Homo sapiens: one gene and its partner. The protein of the gene in region 1 interacts with the protein of each later gene in a biochemical or structural test. Each region holds a gene or a part of one and is shown in the gene's direction. Other genes may lie near its edges.

The links.
Region 2: the proteins of HTR6 (region 1) and NOVA1 form a complex in vitro, tested with the Homo sapiens proteins (one study listed by BioGRID).

What each region holds. Positions count from the first base shown.
Region 1 is NC_000001.11:19,667,680-19,671,591, forward strand, and holds part of HTR6 (5-hydroxytryptamine receptor 6), read left to right. Parts: intron 1-3,912. UniProt on the Homo sapiens protein: G-protein coupled receptor for 5-hydroxytryptamine (serotonin), a biogenic hormone that functions as a neurotransmitter, a hormone and a mitogen. Also has a high affinity for tricyclic psychotropic drugs.
Region 2 is NC_000014.9:26,596,309-26,600,220, reverse strand, and holds the start of NOVA1 (RNA-binding protein Nova-1), read left to right. Parts: upstream 1-2,187; 5' UTR 2,188-2,784; coding exon 2,785-2,920; intron 2,921-3,138; exon of another isoform or gene 3,139-3,623; coding exon of another isoform or gene 3,624-3,648; intron 3,649-3,912. UniProt on the Homo sapiens protein: Functions to regulate alternative splicing in neurons by binding pre-mRNA in a sequence-specific manner to activate exon inclusion or exclusion. It binds specifically to the sequences 5'-YCAY-3' and regulates splicing in only a subset of regulated exons.

The sequences.
Region 1 (3,912 bases):
GGTCCCATCTTGTTTCAGTGCCTGGGAATGGGGTAGGTGCTCTTAGCTCAAGGCCTTGCATTGTCTATAAGTGAGTGCCTGCTCTTGCCATCCAGGCCACAGTGCACCTGACTCCTATTGACCCCCTGGAGGGGTGGGTGTGTAGACCGACCAGGCCTGAGACCCAGTGACTTAGGTCGCAGGTCTTGAGGAAAGTCCCAGCTGGGCTCTTTTGGTGTAGCCCTGAGTGGTGAAAGCTCTAGGAGGGTGGGGGTTGCATTGGAGGTCACTGGGCACATGGGGACTTGGCAGAGGGGTGAAAGGCTAACACCCTCCTTGGCAGTCCCCCAGACAAGCTTGCCTGTCCCACCCAGGTGGGTGAGGCCCAAAGTTGCCCCTGCCTATCACCTGGGGTGGGGGCAGGGCCCCACATGGACTGGGAGTCCTGGCTGCCGCCCAGCTCCTTCTCCCTATCCCTGCTCCCTGTAGAACATTCTTGAGTCTTGGCAGGTGGCTGGGACTCTGACTTGCTTCTTCAGGGGTGGGATGGCTGCCTTAGGCCATATACCCTGGGTTCTTGCTTTTTGTTGTTGTTATTGTTGTTTTTTAAGAGACAGGGTCTTGCTCTGTCACCCAGGCTGGAGGGCTGGAATGTAGTGGCGTGATTATAGCTCACTGCAGCTTAGAATTGATCATAGCTCATTCCAGCCTGAAGAGCTGGTATGCACTGGCCCGATCATAACTCACTGAACTCTTGGGCTCAAGCGATCCTCCTGTCTTGGCCTCCCAAAGTGCTAGGGTTACAGGCTTCCCTGGGTTCTTGAAAAGGAGTGTTTCACAAGCTTCAGGCATTCAAGAACTGCCTGCGGATATCTTCCTTAATGCCTCTTCCACCACCACCTCCACACCTTAAGCCACTTAATTCACATGCACTTGGCATTTTATTTATTTATTTATTAGACACAGGGTCTCACTATATTGCCCAGGCTGGCCTCGAGCTCCCACTTCAGCCTCCCGAGTAGCTGGAATTGCAGGTGCATGCCCCCGTGCCTGGCATTCTTGACATTTTCTTTAAATCATCTCTTTTATATTTTTACTTCCACAAATTTGTGTAGAAAGAAAACTTCGTATCTCCTCTAGAAATGGAAAATCTGTATCCTTTGCCATAAATAGAAGGTGATCACAAACACCACTTCAGTGAAACTGAAGAAGCTCCAGCCCTATCACTGAAATGCAGCTTGGTGTGGTTGAGGTGATGAGCCTAGGGCCTGCTTTCTCTTTGTAGCGTGCTAGAAGGTATTACAAACATGGTAGCATCAACGTGGGACTTTCTCTTGACGCACCTAGAAGAGCTGGAAGACAGCTGTAATGGGCTGACGTGCTCACTCTGTGATTCACTCATTTTATGGGGTGTCCCTTTACCATCTAAAATCATCTCCATTCCCACAGTTCAGGAAGCTCTGCTCTCGTGACTAAGGATGTGAGAAGTTGGCTGGTCTGGGTGAGGTTGGGGCGGGAGAGATCAGGATTCCTAGTTGCAGCGGTGCCAGTACCACACAGATTTTCTTTCCATGAATCTCGCTGGCTGGTACTAGGATTGAACCTGAGTCTGTGGTCTTGGAACCTGGGCAGGAGTCTCCCAGGTGCTAACAGCTGCAGCCCCACAATCTGTGAGCACTCACTCTGTACCAGGCACTGAGCTAAACTTATTAATTCCCCAAACACCCAATGAGTCAAGTACTACCAGCACCCCTGTTAGACAGGTGGGGAAACTGAGGCTCAGAGCGAGAGGTGACTTGCCCAAGATTGCACAGTTGGTAAGTGAGGTTTAAGCTCGGATCTGGCTGGTGCCATCGCCCTGTGCTGGTGTGCTGCCTGTGGGCAGTGATGCTCTTGAAATGCTTTGCTCGGGGACCCCACACCTTGCCCCTTTTCTTCTCTGTGCCTTCTGGTCTTCTCTGTTGGGTCCTCCTGATCCGCCTGAGCCATGGCATCCCTAGTCCTCAGTCCTCGGAGCATCTCGTCCTTTTTCCACATTTGCCCCGTTAGTGACCTCATCTTGTCTCGTAACTGAAAATACCACCCACACGCTGATGACTTCCTACCTGGGCTGCTTACAGGCACGTGCTGCCACGCCCAGCTAATTTTTGTATTTTTAGTAGAGACAGGGTTTCACCATGTTGGCCAGGCTGGTCTCGAACTCCTGACCTTACGTGATCTGCTAGCCTCGGCCTCCCAAAGTGCTGGGATTACAGGCGTGAGCCACTGCGCCTGGCCCTGACTTCCTGATTCCGCTCTTCCTCCCTTTCAACCTTCCGCAGTGGCCCCAATGATCCCCTTTACAATGCAGTTCCTGCTGCATCATTCCTCTGCTCTGGCAGCCTTGTGTCTCACATCACCTGGCCCTCTGACCCTATCTGGCCTCCTCTCCTTCTATAATCCTGCTTGTTTCTTCTCTTTCAGCCATACTGGCCTCCTTGCTGTTCCTTGAACACACCAAGCCCATTCTGCCTCACTTGCGGTTCCTTCTGCTTGGAGTGCCCTTTCTTCAGGTCTCCACCCTGTTCTCCCACTAATTTCCATCATTTCCTTCCAGCCTCTGTTGAATTGCCTCCCCTAATCCCTCTCTCAAGAGTAGCACCTCTCACCCTCCCCAGGTCCTCTCCAGTCCTCATTTCCTAAGTTATTTCTCTCAGCAGCACCTCCTACCCCCTGACGTGTTCTATACCTACCCATTTTTATTTATTTACTGTTTATTTCCTTCTTCTAGAATTTAGGCCTATGAGGGTGGGGAACTTGTTTTTCTGCCTTTTTTTTTTTTTTTGAGACAGAGTCTCACTTTCTCGCCCAGGCTGGAGTGCAGTGGCGTGATCTTGGCCCACTGCAACCTCCGCTTCCCAGGTTCAAGCAATTCTCCTGCCTCAGCCTCCGGAGTAGCTGGGCTATAGGTGCACATCGCCACACCGGGCTAATTTTTTGTATTTTAGTAGAGATGGGGTTTCACTGTGTTGCCCAGGCTGGTCTTGAAACCCTGAGCTCAGGCAATCCACCCGCCTTGGCTTTCCAAAGTGCTAGGATTACAGGCGTGAGCTACCATGCCTGGCCTGTCTTTCTGTTTTCCCCCATGGTCCCAGGAATTAGGGGCACCTGGCACATCATGGGTGCTCAGTATGTATTGATGGAAGGAATGCAGTGTACACAGTGCTTCAGGGAGCCTGGTATTCCAGCCCTGTTTGTGCGGTTGCCTGTTTTCTCATGCCTTTCAGAGTCACTTCTTGAGTGTCATGATCCTGAACTTTTTATCGTGTGAATTCATTTGCTTGGTGACATGTATTGACACCTGCTTTGCACAGCAGCTGTTCTAGGCTGTGTATGTAGTGGTGAACGAGACCAACAGTGCCTGCCCTCTTGAAATCTGTTCTAGTTAGGAGTACAGACATTAATCATCAAACTGTACCACGATGAGGATTATGGAGCTTATAGGAGGGATGCTTCACCCAGCAAACATTCAAAATCTATTATTCACTGTGTATGTTTGAAGATGAAAGCAAAGCACTCACACCAAGCCCTAAAGTGAAAGGCTGGAGGGGTCTTCATGGGTTGGTTAGGCCAGCGCCTTACTTCTAAGGCAGAGTGACTCAGGGGCCTCTCAAGCCAGAAATGTGTCTGTTCTAATCCCCCCGCTTTCTGGAAAGCCCATTCTCTTGGTTTGAACGTGACGTGTGCAAATTCTGCCTCTGTTCCTGCTTTCAAATCCACTCGGCTCCTTAAGTAAGCCTCCTGCAGGCCGTTTTCCTGATTGCCTGGTGAACGGCCTGCACTTTGGGAAAATGCATCTGAGAAATTGCATTGGCCCTCCTGGGTCACCGCCTCTTTCTTCCCACCAGAGCTGGCCTGGAGGTGGAGGCCCCCTCAATGTTTGGACCTAAAGGA
Region 2 (3,912 bases), on another chromosome or scaffold:
TTAATAGACCTTTTCCAATATGCACTAACTTACCTGCTTTCCTTTTCTTTCAGCTCTCAGCATACCTTCTTCACTGATTGAGGCAAACGTGTTTTCCGTAGTCCAGATGAACTTTTAGTCCGAAACTAAACGTTATTCTCTTCCTCATTCAGTGGACTGATATCTCTCATTGCTTAAAAAGCACCAGAAATCCCAATGCCTCCTAGATGATTCTTCCAACAAGAACGCTATGAGGAGCGTTAGCATTCCTTGCTATTGCCTATTTAATCTATCAGGAATTAAATTTTATTCTATTCACTTTGGTTATTGCCTAGATATGCATATATTCTTGGTTAGAATATCATAATTACAGTGAAGTTCCTTCTTATGCTTAGTATGAAAGCCATCTTTTTGGCTGAATTGTTGTAGTGGAAAGTATAGGGAAGGAATAACTTCATTCTACAAATCTAGTGAATATGTTTATACCTTTGTACAGCTTAGAATACATTGCCACAGTCTCTCTCGTTTGACTCCCAATAATGGTGGAAATTGGTTGGAGTCTCAGTCTCTGTTTTGAGTGGGAGGGAATCCGGAGCTCTAATGTATTACAATACTTAAGACAGCAGCCTTTGCAGTCACGAAGACCTGAGTTTGAAATTACTACAATGTTTATAACTGCGTAACTTTGGGTAAATTTCTAATATCTTTAAACCTAAACTACCTCATAAAATGGGGACAGTAATAACTACACGACATACTGCATGTAATTGACACAGCATGCAAAGTGGATTGTTTGCCACGTGGTAAGTAAGCCCTTAATAAATGGCAAGACGTTAAGGGATTTGCCCAAGATACACTTGTAAAACAGCCTACAAGGACCAGAAACCAAGGAAGATTTCAGACTCCGAATCCCATGCTTTTCTACTACCCTGCTTCCTAGAACACTGAGTTAATTAAACTACTAATTTGATGAACGACCTTGAGCAAAATACTTCACTGAGTCAGTTTACTCATCTGTAAAATGAGGGACTTGATTTAGATAATGCCTAACGTCCTTTCAGAGTCTATTCCAGCTACATTAGATGTTTTATCCGGTGTTGCAGGGTTGACGTTCAGGTCCGTGATATGTCCAAGATCTGTATAATCATAAGCCGTGCACATGGCAATGAATTTTATTCCGACACTCGTATTTCGTTCAATATTTAGTTCTGTGTGCACACTCAGCTGTTGCCTGTCTTTAGTCTGCCTACCAGCGCCTTGTGAAGGGAAGACCCACACCTAGCTTTATTTATTTATATCCTGGCTTGTTCCCGAAAGGATTTAAGGCGGCGAGTGACACTCTAAGTCCCCTAACGGTGTCACACAGTGCGATTAAGAAATCCTCTTTGGATGAAATCATACCGTAGAAAATCGCCGATGAGTGAGATGCTAACTAATTAATGTCTTTTACCCAACTCTTAAAAATAAAAACTAATGCACCTAGCAAGAAGTCCTGGAAGCATACAGTGCTGGCTCTCCCTCCAGCTCTGACGCTGTCCCACCCGTTGTCAACGGTCACTCGAATGCCCTTCTTAGACTAGCCAAAATTGTCGCCGCTCCAGTACCAGCTGGACCAAGATCCCACCCCACCCCTTCGCTGCCCCTCATCACCCAAGTTTCCTGATTGGGAAGGGGCCCGAAGAACCTTTCTCACATTTCTATTTTATTGGCTGGCACGGCTGTCAGTAATCTCTCCTTCCCGCCTTCTAGCCTAGCGCGTTTCGTGGACCCCTTGGTTTCTGCGACAAGCCGCTTACGTTTGCCTGAGCCGTGTTGCCGGGGACCAGCGACCTTTCACCCCTCCCTTCCCACAGGAGCGCCCCGGCCCCCGCCCCCGCCCCAACCGCCGGCGCGCGTCCTCACCGCGCACGCGCTCCCCTCGCGCGCGCACACGCTCGCGCACACACGCTCCCTCGCCCCCGCCCGCGGAGTTCCCCCTCACCCCTCAGCCGCCCCGCCGGCTGAAGCATCGGCGCTGGGAGGCGGCGGCGCTGCTGAGAGGCAGGGACCCGAGCGCGAAGTGTGTGGGAGTCTACGAACTCAACCCCTCTCTACCCTCCCCTCACAGCCACCCCCCTCCCTCCCCGCCAGCCCCCCCCAACAAGCGGGAGAAATAATGAGCGAGACCGGGCGGCAGCAGCAGCAGCGCCGAGCAGCCCAGGCAACGGCAGAACCGCTCCGGCAGCGGCGGCGGCGGCAGCACCAGCAGCGGGAGCGAGCGCAACGCTAGCGCGGCGCGGGGACCGCCGCGCTCCTTCCCGGCTCCTGCCCTCCTCTGCCGCTCGCTCCTCTCTCGGCATCCACCTCCTTCCCCTCCTCCTGCTCATTCACTCTTTCCCTCACTCTCCCCTCCTCCTCGGCTTCTCCCCGCGCCCCGCCAGCCCTCGCGCTCTCCCACTCCCTCTGCCTGTCCTCCCCGGTCCCCTCCTCCCGCTCATTCACTCGCCCCTCTCCCTTCTCCACTCTCTCCCCCTGTCTCCTTTCTTCTTCTTCTTTCACCCTCCGTCTCTCACACCCCCTCCATTCCCCTGTCTCCTTTCTGACACTGCACTGCAGCTGCTCCTCAGCCCTGCCCCCTCCCCAGTGAGAACAAACCAGCAACATTGCTTTTTTTCCTAAAGAGATTTATATTGATCCGATTAAAAAAAAAAAACCTTAAGAAACCCCAAACGCAAAAAAAAAAAAAAAAAAAAAAGAAAAAAGAAAAGAAAAAGCCAAAACAAAAGGGAGAACCTTCTCCCGGTAGCAGCGGCAGGAACTGCAAACATGATGGCGGCAGCTCCCATCCAGCAGAACGGGACCCACACTGGGGTTCCCATAGACCTGGACCCGCCGGACTCGCGGAAAAGGCCGCTGGAAGCCCCCCCTGAAGCCGGCAGCACCAAGAGGACCAATACGGGCGGTGGGTATCGCTTCCACCTCCCCGCTGGCCCCATCCCCCGCCGCCCGCCCCTGCCTCCCTCCCTCGCCGTCCTCCCTCCCTCCTTCCCTCCCTCCCTCCCGCGGCCCGGACACCTCCAGCCCGAACCCGGCGGCCCCTGCGCCCCTGCCCCGCGCCCCCTCCCCTGCACCTGCCCCGCGCCTAGGTGTCCCCGACACATTTCCATTTCTGTGTTTATCATTCATCAAAATGGCGACCAGTTTTTCGGAATAGACCTATCTTTCCATTTAATCGGTCCAGAGGTTGACCATGTAAATATCCTAGACCTGGGCAAGAAGGTCCATTCAGGAGGAGGAGGAGGATGACCCCGGAGTGAGGTGATGGCCGCCCGAAGATGCGCGCTGCGTTTAACAGTCTGATAAAATAAATAAATAAATGGCACTTGGGTAGCGGATTGCGAATGACTGGGGCGCCGGAGAGTTTTTCCTCTCTCCATCCTCTTGCTTTGGGCCACAAGTAGTATGCAAAATCTTGATGAGTGCATGCCCTTACCGCACTTAGATTGTCGGTGCAAATATTTCATTGATTTGTCTTCAGGGGGGTGCATACGAGGGTGGGGGTGTCTGGAACGGTGACTTGTTAGTTAACATCCTGCGCTTCCTTGGAAGATGAGTTTTAACGGGACCGATATCGCTTCTTCATTTGCACTGGAATCATCTTAACAATGCACCCAATGCATCGAAGCAGAGGTGAATTTATCTCCAGCATATGCATTGTAGACGGATGGGGGTCTTTTGAGTGGCACACCACAACATTTGGAACATTCATTCACATTAAGAAAGCTGGATTTACCGGGGTGTCTCCTGTATAAGATGTGATCAAGTTGACGGAAATTAAAGTTTGTGGAGTTGGCTTAATTTTCTAAAACGTTTCATTTTATTTTTCCTGGTTCTTCCACCCCCTTTCCGTTTTAAAAGTTGTGATTATTTTGGGAAAGGAACATTACCTGTTTT